Regions from separate parts of the Homo sapiens genome. Here regions 2 and 3 are each reported to be linked to region 1. Evidence: microRNA targets listed by miRTarBase, many of them from high-throughput screens and not tested one by one. Region 1 holds a microRNA gene; each other region holds the end of a gene's coding sequence.

Region 1 (4,244 bases):
TCCTTGTCTCTAAAACAATTCAAGGTTGAAGGACTAACCCTCCTCTCAACAGTGGCAAAGAGGCACGGGGCTATTTTTTTTTTTTTTTTGTAAAAGAAATTAAAGACCACACATCCATCTCTGTTTCTTGATAGATTAAAGGATGGGGAAAGGAGGTCTCAGTTTTCTACAGCTGGGAATTTCAGAGCCAGCACCTCACTGCGGGGTAGACTGAAGAGGGTCATAAAGAGCCTCTGGGGGAGGAACACCTCTCCCTTACATCTTCCACAAAAGAACTTCTTGGTTTTTCTCAGACCCATGGCAGAGATGTGCCCTGTCTCAGGCTGACAGCTGGAAGGGGCTGGGACTCAGAGCTAGGTATTGCCAGTCTTCTCCATGACTCCCCCCACTCCTCCTGCTCCTGAGCGTCTCCATCACCAGGCAAGCCCCCACCCCCATTCTGGATAGAGAGAATAAACCCAAGGATGGAAGGGTGGGCTAAAGAGGAAGTGCTCACAATTAAAAAGAGAAAGAATTAAAAGCAGCACCAATAGGGAAGGGTAATTATCCTTCAGTTGCTGCAGAAATACAATTAGGGCCATGCTCTCTGAGCCGCCAGGATATTGTGGCTTTTGCTAATTAAGGAGCGGATGTGTCCTGCCAGCGCAATTAGAGGCTGGCCCAGGCAGCAGGGGCTTTGCCTCTCCTCCACCAGTGCCACACTGCAAGGGAAATTAACCAGGGAGCCCAGCGCTGTGCCTGCAGGGAGGGGATGACTGGGCCAGGATTCCACCAGCCTCCTGTCCACAACCATTTCCCCTTTTCCTCTTCCTGCTCTGCTTACCCCAGCACCACCACTCTGACTTCATTCTGAAGCTTCCAGGGCTCAGTAACCACAGGAAGAATTTTCACCATGGGCCATGCCCATAGGCTTCCAGAAGGGGGAGGCACCAGTAGAGAGGGGTCACCATTTCCAAGCTCTAGTTTCTCTTCTGCATGGTGGTTCAATGCTTTATGATTAGTAAAGGAAAGAGAGAAATGAGCCACTTGCCTGCTTCTCTTTAAAAATAATTCCCCTGTTTGTAAAGGAAATATGCTCAAATTGGGTGCAGTGGCTCACGTCTATAATCCCAGCACTTTGAGAGGCTGAGGCAGGAGGATCACTTGAGCCCAGGAGTTCAAGACCAGCCTGGGCAATATACTGAGACCTTGTCTTTACTAAAAAAAAAAAAAAAAAAAAAAAAATTAGCTGTAGTCTCAGCTACTAGGGAGGCTGAGGTGGAAGAATCACTTGAACACTCGAGTCTGGAAGGTTGAAGCTGGAGTGAGCTGTGATTGCACCACTGCACTACAGCCTGGGTGACAGAGCAAGACCCTGTCTCACCAAAACAAAACAAAACAACTGTGTCCATTATAGAAAGTAGAACACTCCAGAAAAAAGGGAAAAGTAAGAAAAAATAATTTCTCCAGGGAATTCTGAGGTGAGGAGAGGTGTTCAAAGATGAACTTAGTAATAGGAGCGGAGACAACGCCTCGCCTGAAGGAGCATCCAGACCGCTGACCTGGTGGCGAGGGGAGGGGGGTGGTCCTCGAACGCCTTGCAGAACTGGCCTGGATACAGAGTGGACCGGCTGGCCCCATCTGGAAGACTAGTGATTTTGTTGTTGTCTTACTGCGCTCAACAACAAATCCCAGTCTACCTAATGGTGCCAGCCATCGCAGCGGGGTGCAGGAAATGGGGGCAGCCCCCCTTTTTGGCTATCCTTCCACGTGTTCTTTTTTGTATCTTTTGTGTTTCCTAGAAAACATCTCAGGTCACCACCCTAAACACCCATCGGCAGACTCTTCCAGAAACATGGACAAACTATGGTGTGAGCAGGGAAGTGGGGCAGGGTCTCTGTTTTCAGGGAGCAGTGGACTGCTTCCATACCACTACCTGAAGGGCAGGGGGAGAAAAACCCTCCTTAATTACTAATTCCCCCAACAATCACTTTGGGGCACCTATAATGGAGGCACCTTGTGACTCCACATCCTGGGGCTCAGGGCCTCATTGTCTGTGGCCCGACAGCCACAGTGTATGCGGGCACCGAGAGGTATGCACTGGAGACCGAGGTTCCCGGATGTTCAGTGTACCTGGCAGCAGGGGGGACACACCTGACCTCGGAGCTTGTCTGGTGCCTGCTCCACAGCTGAGGGAGTGGACTTGTGTGTATGGAATTTCTTGGTCCCAGTACCTGCCTCTGTGCTGCTACATCCAGAGGTGTGGCCAAGGGAAAAAAGCCCAGTGCTTGGGGACCATCCCCCACTGTGGCAGGAATACAATTAGAATTAGTGATCAGAAAAAGCATTTCCCAGCCTTTTATTTATTTATTTATTTATTTATTTATTTATTTATTTATTTATTTTTGAGACAGAGTCTCACTCTGTCCCAGGCTGGAGTGCAGTGGTACAGTCCTGACTCACTGCAACCTCCACCTCCTGGGTTCAAGTGATTCTTGTGCCTCAGCCTCCCGACTAGCTGGGATTACAGGTGAATGCCACCAACTCAGCTAATTTTTTGTATTTTTGGTAGAGAGAGGGGTTTGCTATGTTGGTCAGGCTGGTCTCGAACTCGTGACGTCAGGGGATCTGCCCACCTCGGTCTCCCAAAGTGCTGGGAGTATAGGCATCAGCCACCTTGCCTGGCCTCCCAGCCTTTCTGCCTGGGATCCCTCTGCCTGGGGGGTACCTTGCCCTAAGGTGAGCACCAAGTTACAGTGATGACACTTTCAGTGGAGATTAATTTTCAAGCAACAAATCCAAATGCCCTCCCTATTCCTAAGTATATTCCCACCCTCCTCCATCCATACAGCAGAGGAGACTAAAGCATATTACAAACTAAAGTTGGGGGTTGGGGATCGTACTCATTTAGGGAATGCTAAAAATGCAACCATTAGCTGAGCTCATTCTACCTCTTCCGGTTGCTAGCTGTGTGACCTCTGGCAAGGCACTTGACCTCTCTGAACCAAGTCAGCCCTTCACTTCTACCCAGAGACTTTGGCTGCCTCTGCTTCTGCTGCTCCCTATCCTACAAACTGGCTCTCTTCTTCTGCACTTCCAGTCTTAAATTTCCCTTTACTCCTAACCCTGCCTGAAGCCAGTGGGAAGCCAGTCCTATTAGAAATCTCATTTACACTTCAGAAGTCTGCAAATTGGTGTCACTCAGCAGGTATCTGTCCTTCACAGCGGGAGAGAAGCCCAGATTGGGCAGGAAGGGCAGAGCTGGAGAACAGGAGAGGAGGGGAGTTGAGTCTCTCCTGGGCAGCCCTCAGCCTCTGGGGCTGGTTTGGAGATGGAACGGGGAGAGATTGTGTCTCAGTGAAACAAGCATCTCGGGGGGGGATGTGGGGTGCATTCCTGATTTGAGGGATGGATATGACAGCCTTTGTTAAGTGGTGGGGGGAGTCCTGGCTCTGAAGTCAAACATGTGCCAGTTTCAATCTTGGCTCCACTGCTTACGAGCTGTGTGACTTTGAGTCAGTCACTTAACATCTCTGAGTCTCAGATTCCTCAACTGTGAAACAGAATTGATCACATCTACCTTGCTAGGTTATTACGATAAGTAGGCAAGTGAAGTGTCATAATATAAAATAGCATGGGTATATACCCAATATTGGTCTCTTCTGCCTTTTCTTTCATAGTTTTCATGGTTGTCCTCTTCACCAGCCTTGTGCACCCACAAATCTGCCATCCTGAAATAGGAAAAAATGGAAACCACCATCTTTCTATTAGTCTCCCCTATCATGTAGGAATTTAATCCTATTTAAATATGTATCCTTCCCCTTCCAGATCAGTATCTTGCCCATTTCAGGGGACTCAATATATATTGAAAGAATGAATATAGACCAAGTCCCTCCCCACTTTAAAAATGCTGAAATCAGGGCCTGCAGAGGTTGTGACTTATCTCTTGGTCACTCAGCAAAATAGACAATTTACTACTGTTTTTATTTATTTATTTATTTATTGAAATGGGGTCTGGCTTTGTCACCCAGTCTAGAGTGCAGTGGTGTGATCTCGGCTCAATGCAACCCCAACCTCCTGGGCTCAAGCAATTCTCCTCCCTCAGCCTCCCGATCAGATGAGACTACAGACACCCACCACCACACCCTGGCTAATTACAGTATTTTTTGTAGAGACGGAGTCTCCCTGTGTTGCTCAGGCTGGTCTTAAACTCCTGGGCTCAGGTGATCCTACCACCTTGGCTTCCCCAAATGCTGAAATTACAG
Region 2 (4,244 bases), not on the chromosome of region 1:
GTACTCTGTTTTTCTTTTTGTAATGGGCCTCCTTTATCAGTAAAATCGATATTAAAAAATGCTAATTAAATGAAGATTGTGTTAGTCATATTTGGCTTTTGTGTTACTGTTAAAGTGAGAATAGAAAATGCTTAATGACAAAAGGAACTTTAATTAGAGTTTAGTTAATAACTACGGTTTCTTTTTAAGCTTTTAATTCTAATCTGTCAACCTAAATGACTTTCCCAGGAATATTTAGTGACATTCATCTGCTGGCTATGATGTACAGTGGAGAAATGTGTTACTGGGGATCGAAGTATTGTGCTGATCAGCAACCAGAAAATCATGAAGTGGATACTAGTGTGTCTGGAGCGGGCTGCACTACATACAAGGAACCCTTGGATTTCCGAGAAGTAGGAGAAAAAATCTTGAAAAAGTATGTATCTGTGTGTGAAGGACCCCTGAAAGAACAAGAATGGAATACAACGAATGCAAAACAAATTTTAAACTTCTTTCATCATCGCTGTAACTAGTAAGTTCATCTAGTCCTTTTCAAATAGAAAAACAACAAAACCCATGAAATGGAAAAGAGAGTTCCAAAAAAGAAGACCTGTTGATACTGAATATGAGAACATTACACTGCATAAAGATATCCAGCTTGGGTACCCTACTAAAACAACATCACCATCTTTTTCATTATATATTAGTAAACCTATGAAGGGATGATTCTTTAATTTCTAAAGTGTTGTTCAAACTCACCTTAAAATACAGATGTTATGTCACTAATAATGAGTAGTAACCCAATTTAGCTTTACAAAGATTTTTTCTATTACTTTTTTTTTTTATTGTGGTATATGTAACACAAGTTTACCATTTTTATCATCTTTAGATTATTTTTAAATCTCACTACCTTGAAGTTTGCCATGCTTCAGAAATTAAAGTCAAGTTACTTCACTGCTTTGAATACATACTATGGATATAAATGTAGGCAAAATGAAAGATTATGACTAATATTCAGATTCCATTTTCAATAAGGTAAATAATGAAAGATCTCACAAAGGAATCATTGTGTTTAATTATTTTGCCATGTATTACTAATTGTATTTAAAATTTCTACTTCCCTTAGGCATTTTATAAAAATTTAAAAATTATTTTTCTATTTTGTTTAAAAGACAATGCATGGCTTTTCAAGTGAGTAATGAAGATAAAAACCAAGCTAGGTTAGTCTACCATTAGTTCATATGTTTTTGTAGCACATCTTTTCATAACATACTGAAATTTTAATGTTTTTTGCCTTTAATAATAGGGGTGAGTGTTAAAGGCCAGAGAGCCTAACTTGATATCTTGCTCATGGTCTTTCTGTCTACCTCAACTCCTGTTGTCATCTTTGGATGATCTTTCTGATACCTTGCTGATACCTTGGACTTCTGCCCAGTGACTTTATTACATTCCAGCAGCTTACTCCCGTGGCCGCACTTTGAATGTCACCACCTTGAGTTTCTCTTTCTGGTAAAATTTCAGTAACTGATAACTGCCCTCTTTTCAGTTTTTTCACTTCCTTATTTTATTGACTTTTCTCTCCTTTATGCTCATTCCACATTCTTCAGTTCCTTCTTACCCCCTTTTCTTGACTGCTCCCCTTCCTCCTAAACTGTCAGCCCCTTTCAGGCTTTCTTCCCTATCCACCCTCAGCTTTATGGGATACTATATGAACTAATCTCACCAGTTATTCTTCTTTCCCTGGTCTTTTAGTCTAGTCCTTTGGCAAGCCCTCAACCTCAGATTAATCCTATTTATTATCTACCTTTTCGGGGATGCTGAGTTCTTTGTGATGGGTAGTCCTTCAAAGTAGAATCACTACAAGTGTCTCACTTCAGCCTTAGAAAAGCCCTCAATGTAAACCTTATGTTTGTTACTAGGGTGGCCTCTCTCCCATTTCCCGCTGTGGCTGAGCCAAACTTCATTACTTTCCTTAGGCCCTCTGCCCCTCCCCTAGCATATGGCTCTTTCTCCTATTGAACAGAAAATTGAGACTATGAAGAGGTCAACTTGTATTTACCAACTTTACTCATTTTCCCATTTTAGAGGAAAAGAGGTTGCCTGCTTCCTATCAAAGGCGACTCTGTGCTACATGTTGGTTTCATCTTCGCTGTCTCTCTCATTTCCCCACAAAGTGTTGTCTCACTTTCTGCCTACCTTTTAGGTATTGATCTTCACTATATTTTTTTCTCTCTCTCTCTTTTTTTTTTTTACTTTACATATTTTATACAATGTCATTCATAACTATGGCTTCTTTTACCACCTGTAATAACAGACTGAGTCTCAAACCTGTAACTTGTATCCTGACTTATCTCTTGCTTTCTAAACCTTGTTTCTAACTGTCTATCAAATATCTTCATTAGACATCCCACAGTAATTTTAAGCTCAGTGTTTCCAAACGTCAAGTCCTCATCTGTTATATAAAATCCTTTCTGCTTTGTAAGTTTTCTCTTTTTGGGATTTTCCGCAGATCAGGGCAACACAGAATGACTACCTTCCCAGCCATGTCTCTGCAGTCATCCTGTGTAATCATGTTCTAGTCCAGTGTTGCTCAAACAGTTAAAATCCAGGCTGCTTTTGGTAAACATACAAATTCTGATATAGAGCCTCTGTGGCAAAGGGAATTTCTCAGTTCCTGCCCCAGCCCCCTTGTTTATCATTACACAGCTAAGATTTTTATTTAACTTAGCATTTTAGCAAGTTTTCTTATGAAAATACCTTTGTGCTTTCTAAGTATAAAGATTTAAATTATTTTTAATACGGTTTTTAGAACCACAGACTATCCCTCTTTTTAGAGCATCCTGATCAATTGCAAGTACTTCCACTTCTTCCCTAAATGCGCTTTGTGTGTTTTCCACCTCAGTAGCCTTGCACACATCATTACTTCTGCATCCTTCTTTGTGACCAAGTGAATACCTACCTACCTCTTAGGACTCAGCTTCAGTGATTCTGTTTTCATAGGCTTTTTAAAGCCCTTTTCAGTCAAATTAGATGCTCCTTTGTTCTGGTCCTTTACTCTTCCCCTCCCATGTTGTCGCACTGATCACACTGCTTTGTAATTATTTTCTTTATTGTTGGTAAACTCCATATTTTAAAAATTTACCTGTATACATAGTGCTTAATGCATGGTAGGCCCTTAGTAATGTTTTTGAATTAATGAGGCATGATTCTAAATGCCAAACTTTGCACAAAAAGTTGTTGCTATTGGATTCCAAACTGCTATGCCCTCTATACCAGTGGCTGACAAGGCATATAGGGATATATGCCATCCTGAGAGGAGTAAAGTGTTTAGATTCTGAACCTGAGAAAAGAGAACTTTCTCTTAAGAAGTTGGAAACTTCATTTTACCTTCGTGACCCTGGTAGACCACTTGGTCTCACTGGTTGGTACAATTATGAGGGTAGTACTGGGTGCTTTTTATACAACTTTCCATCCCCCACACAGTTGGAGAATAATTTGTAGACCATGGCAGTTAAAATGCTTTTTACTCTGGTGTATTATAGAATAATGAACACATTTTTATATATGTTAAAGCCTGCTAAATCATTCACTTAGAATGAAGTAACCTCAAGGTACCAAATACCCCACATAAGGAAAGTACTACACTAAATTCACTCAACTATTGTATGCCTACCATATGCCAGATTTTATCCTAGACCCTGAGGATATAGCTTTTTAAAACCCCCTCCTGTTTCAGAGCTTATATTCTAGTGGAGGAAGTTAGACAAGCATTTTAAGTAATAAATGTATAGAGAGTGTCAAGTGATGAGTACCATGAAGAAGAATAAATGAGGGTAAGGGGCTAGTGTGATAGGGAGAGGGGTGGGATGCCATCATATTTAGGGGTGGTTGGGAACTGTCTACTGCTTTAGCATTTGTGTCTTCAAATTTCTCTCCTTTGGTTATATACCTTGCGTATTCCGCACATTGATAAAGTTTCTTTCTTACAGAAGTTCTGATATTGAATTAAGGAATGGGTCACTACTTAAGACTTTATCATTTCAGCTACACATAAAAGGTTTCTCTCCCCTATGGATTTTGCTAATGGTTGAGTGATACCTAAAGGCCTTGTTGCATTTTTTACACTTGGGGTTTCTCTTCGGTTTGAATTCTCTCATGGTTACCAAAACTCTGTTAAAGGACTTTTCACAGTCGTTAAATGTGTATGGCTCTTTCCCAATATGAATTTTTTTGATGTTAACTAGGCTTTTAGACTTAGTTAAAGA
Region 3 (4,244 bases), not on the chromosome of region 1:
GATTTAGAGTGGATGTATTTTTTTAAAAAAGAGAAGATGCTGATAGTTCATTGAAAAAAAAGTAGAAATAACTCTTAGATTTAGAAATCGAGTAGGAAATAACTTTCCTACACTTTAACCTTATCCAACATTTTTTCGTTACTTGCATTTTTGTGCTTTGGAAGTTTCTCGGGAAACTTTTCTCAAGGTATCTTTTGAAAGTACTACATCTTTTTTTTTTTTTTTTTTTTTTTTTTTTTTGAGATAGGTTCTCAACCAAGCTGGAATGCAGTGGTACAATCACGGCTCACTGAAGCCCTGACCTCCTGGGCTCAAGTGATACCTTTACCTCAGCCTCCCAAGTAGCTGGGACAATAGGCGCATGCCACCATGCCTGGCTAATTTTTGTGTTTGTTGCAGAGATGGGGTTTCACCATGTTGCCCAGGCTGGTCTCTTAAGTCCTGGCCTCAAGCGATCTGCCCACCTAAGTCTCTGAAAGTGCTGAGAGTTCAGGTATGAGTCACTGCTCCCAGGTGAAAGTACTATATCTTTTAAACTTGAGGGACGTTGTTGATTTTTGAGACAAATAGTAAATATACACTAAATCGTTTATTAAGTCTTATTAAGTCCCTCAGGCTTCTAATAGTTTTGAGATTACTTTTGATTATTGTATTCTAATATGGAATTTAAAGGATGGTTATATACTTTGTAAAGATGAGACGGTTTGAATGTGATTTCAACATTGAGGATTAAATGTTTTGTTTTTCTTTAACTGCAGGTTATCTTGTCTATGAATTTGACAAGTTTTGGTTTGAAGAAGAACCAGAAAGCATTATGTATTTCAATTTGTATAGAGAGAAGTTTCATGAAAAGATTAAAGGACTTTTACTGGATTGTAATGTAGCACTTACTTTAAAAGTATAAATCATCCACTGTATCTTCTATTTCTACCACATTTTGCACATTCAACAGAATTTATATGTTGTAATAGGAATTATCTGATCAATTACACTCTTATATATAATTTCCTACAAAAATATTTCAGAAATTCTATTTAAGAAAGCTAGTGGACAATCAGTGTATGTTTACAATTGTTTATACACTGTTCTCCAAAGGTACCTTATCCTTCCAAAGATCCCCTCTGTAGAGTCATGCGAACTACAGTTTGGAACTTGGGACTTAGCCCGTTGGTGTAAAAGTATAAATCAGGTATTTGTATTAAATTGATTAAAATGTGTAAAATCAATTTTCGTTTTTATGTGTTATAGGGTCAAGTTGGTATCTTTTTCAAAGCTCTTTAAGATTTTTTTGGTTTTTAGTTTGGAAATGGCTGTTTTTAATTTTGTCTGATTTTTATTTCTAGGTTAATTAACAGCAAGTGTTTCTTTATGGTTTTCTTTGTTTGCATCTTAATTACATGTCATAACGTTGCTTCATTAGTAGCAAATAGAGCAGAGATACAGCAGAGAGAATAAAGAATTAGGGCCTCCTTTTGGGTTTCTGTGATTATTGAGCATAACTGATGAGAGAATGACAGTATTGGTGACTAGCTTTTTTGTTTTTAAATAACACACTTTAAAATGCCACAGTGTTATTTGAAAGCTTAAAGGCATTTTCTCATCTTCAGTATTTGCTTTTTATCAGTTGTAGAAAAGAACCTTAGTGTTTTCTTCTCTACCTATGTATGCTTATGAAACCGCTCTACCTACATATGAAACTTCTCTACCTATGTATGTTTACGAAAAGAGATGTATTTGCCAAGAAAATCTTGATTATATAAAAGACAAAAAGATTATAAAAGACAGTTTCTGTTTAAGTAAAACTGTCTTTGAAACTTAAGAAAGCTTAAGTTTTAAAAAAATCTCAGTTAAACATCATTGGTTTATTTGACTTACTGTTAACTCTTGCTTCTCTTTGACTCCATGGTGTTTTTAGATAACCATGTATGAACTTTATGTTAATGGTTTGTGGGATACTAAAATAGCTTGAAGATGACTTGATGACTGTGCATTTTATATAGTTTTATTCTCCTAAAATCTCAGGAGGGCAGCAAGTGCTGTCAACGATTATATAGTGATGAGATTTTTATGGGAATGATTTCTTCTTGGTGCGTTTTACACATTTGTACTGATAGCAAAACTAAAGTTTAAAGCAGCAAAGTTTAAGTTCTCCTTAAATCCTACAGAAACCAACCTTTTAAGGACATAATTTCATCTAAAACATGACGATATTTAGCACACCTTTTAATGTGGGTATATATCAAGTGTTTAAGGACTGGCTAGTATGTGATAGAGCAAGACCTGAGACTTTATAAGTATTTGCTCGTGTCTGTTGACAGACCTCTTTCTTTCAAACTTGTTAGAAGAGTGGTAAGACATATCCAATTGGAAAATAAGATGCAGTGTTGTATAGCACATACATTTAAAGTGCTTGCGTTAAAATTAGTTTCTCAATAAGATAAAATTATTTTAAAAATTTGGTTCACTTTATTACAATAGTGGCAATTTAGCTTTTCAGTATTACAGGAATTTAAAAATTGGTTTCTTGTAGGGGACATCTCAACTTTGGGAATATCTTCACTTAATTTTTAAAAAATATTTTCATGCTTTATTGTCCAGCTATACAATATGTCGCAAAATCCTGACAAGTTCATTGTATTAAGGTATTAACTATTACATGGAAAGCAATTCTGTTCATCTTTTGATGTTTGTGTTGAAAATGCTTATCTTTGTGTTTTGATCTTCCAACAGCTGAGAGCTTGAACTGATTTAAACATTTGTCAATATACTTAAGAATGCTTTAAGTAAAGAAGGGGAAAATTTTAAGTAAGTTTTTTCCCTTCTAGGAAGAAAAACTATGATGATGTTAAGAAAATGTCATTATAGAGCTTGCTCAATAATATGTTCTTTAAATCCACCTCCATTTGTACATTATAGGTATCATTCTGTTTTTGCTTAAAATAATCTGCAACCATTTCAGATAGTTTTACAGCAAATTGATCTAAAAGCCACTAATAAATTCTAGGGTTTGAGTCTAGAAGCCAAGCAAACTGTCACCAATGTCAGTTGTAAATTAGAATGCAACATGAGGCTTCAGACTCATGACAATGATATACATGAAAACAAAAATATAATTGTGTCTACCTTCCTACTTTCCCTTTTGACATATGTAGTTGGAATTTTACATAGTCTTAAAATCCATATTTAGAATCTTACCTGTTTCTATAATAATTAGTAAAATGCCAAAGTAGTGATAGAATATTGTGGCATTGAAGTAGCCGAAAAATTGTTAGTTTTAGCATCAAAAAAGTAAATAGATGTTGAAATGAATTTTTGTATGTGCCAGGTTGAAGAGAGTGTGCCAGTGACAGGAAGTAGTCTAAAAAATTAACAGTTATGGTTTTAATAGGATCTGAAAGACAATCTTTAAAGAAATGGGAGAAATTGGGGGTATCAGTGAACCTATACCAACCTCTCTTTGTACATAAATATGGTGATGTAGCTAGATATAAAAATCAGTGTCTTACTGGCACCATTTACAGTTTAGAAAACAATCTTTTTCTTAAAAATGCCCATCTGATTTCTATTTTTAGGAGCTACTTGGATTTGTATGTATTTTTTCTACGTGAAAATATATGTACTCTTCACTTTTGTTCCAGTACTATAATTGCTCATGCACTCTTTCTCCCCTTTGAGAACATTCAGTGAAATACAACTTCATCAAAGATTTGCTCAAAGGAGAAGAATCGCATGAGTGTGAAAAGTAGATGCTCGTAGCCAGAACAGAAAAGGTTACACATGATCATGGCACAGAAGATAGGAGGTTTGACTTGGTGGGCCATAATGTTTATTATCCTTTTTGAAATAACAGGGACCAGCAGCAGTTTTCTCAGGATAAATGCTCTACCCCACTTCTCTATGAACAGGTGTGGGGAGGCTTACTTTCCATTTTCATATTTATACACCTCTCTACAAAAGCAATTTTTAATGAAGGTTAGTGGAATTGTTAAAAATCTGAGAGGAATGATGACTGGAGGTGTTTGGGGTTTTTTTCTGTATTCATTTTTTAATGAGAAAAGTTTTAAATGTAGTACAGGTTAGACCCAACTACTACCTTACTATTATAGGACGATTCTATGTTTCTGTTAAAGTATTCAAGTAGCTTTCTCTGGGGGAAAAAGTACCACTTGGACACTTAAAGGAATTGGGATTTTTGTCTACTTTGGATAAGGCAGTTGACTTCTTAAGTAAAAGCAATAGTGTAA

The links. Region 1 holds the annotated microRNA hsa-miR-3529-5p (AGGUAGACUGGGAUUUGUUGUU, at 1,660-1,681, opposite strand). A microRNA usually pairs through its seed, bases 2 to 8, with sites in the 3' UTR of a target mRNA and lowers its output. Matches are read on the target gene's strand: a 7mer-m8 pairs with bases 2 to 8, a 7mer-A1 pairs with bases 2 to 7 and ends in A, and an 8mer does both.
Region 2: miRTarBase lists RIMOC1 as a target of hsa-miR-3529-5p. Seed matches in the 3' UTR shown: 8mer at 1,204-1,211 and 7mer-m8 at 1,341-1,347.
Region 3: miRTarBase lists ELMOD2 as a target of hsa-miR-3529-5p. Seed matches in the 3' UTR shown: 7mer-A1 at 927-933 and 7mer-m8 at 3,118-3,124.

The regions. Positions count from the first base shown.
Region 1 is chr15:88,610,235-88,614,478 of GRCh38, forward strand. It overlaps MIR3529 (microRNA 3529), which reads right to left and starts at 1,690; the gene lies at 1,613-1,690. It overlaps MIR7-2 (microRNA 7-2), which reads left to right and starts at 1,591; the gene lies at 1,591-1,700. It also overlaps a transcript of AEN not described here. RefSeq lists an enhancer at 2,800-3,484.
Region 2 is chr5:41,916,788-41,921,031 of GRCh38, forward strand. RIMOC1 (RAB7A interacting MON1-CCZ1 complex subunit 1) reads left to right here. Exons shown (of 6, transcript NM_175921.6): 6 at 229-4,244. The coding sequence ends at 512. It also overlaps the pseudogene LOC100419715. Among named protein-coding and RNA genes, the nearest start is that of FBXO4, 6.4 kb to the right of the region's middle. RefSeq lists an enhancer at 1,560-1,719.
Region 3 is chr4:140,549,472-140,553,715 of GRCh38, forward strand. ELMOD2 (ELMO domain containing 2) reads left to right here. Exons shown (of 9, transcript NM_153702.4): 9 at 759-4,244. The coding sequence ends at 904. Among named protein-coding and RNA genes, the nearest start is that of UCP1, 17 kb to the right of the region's middle.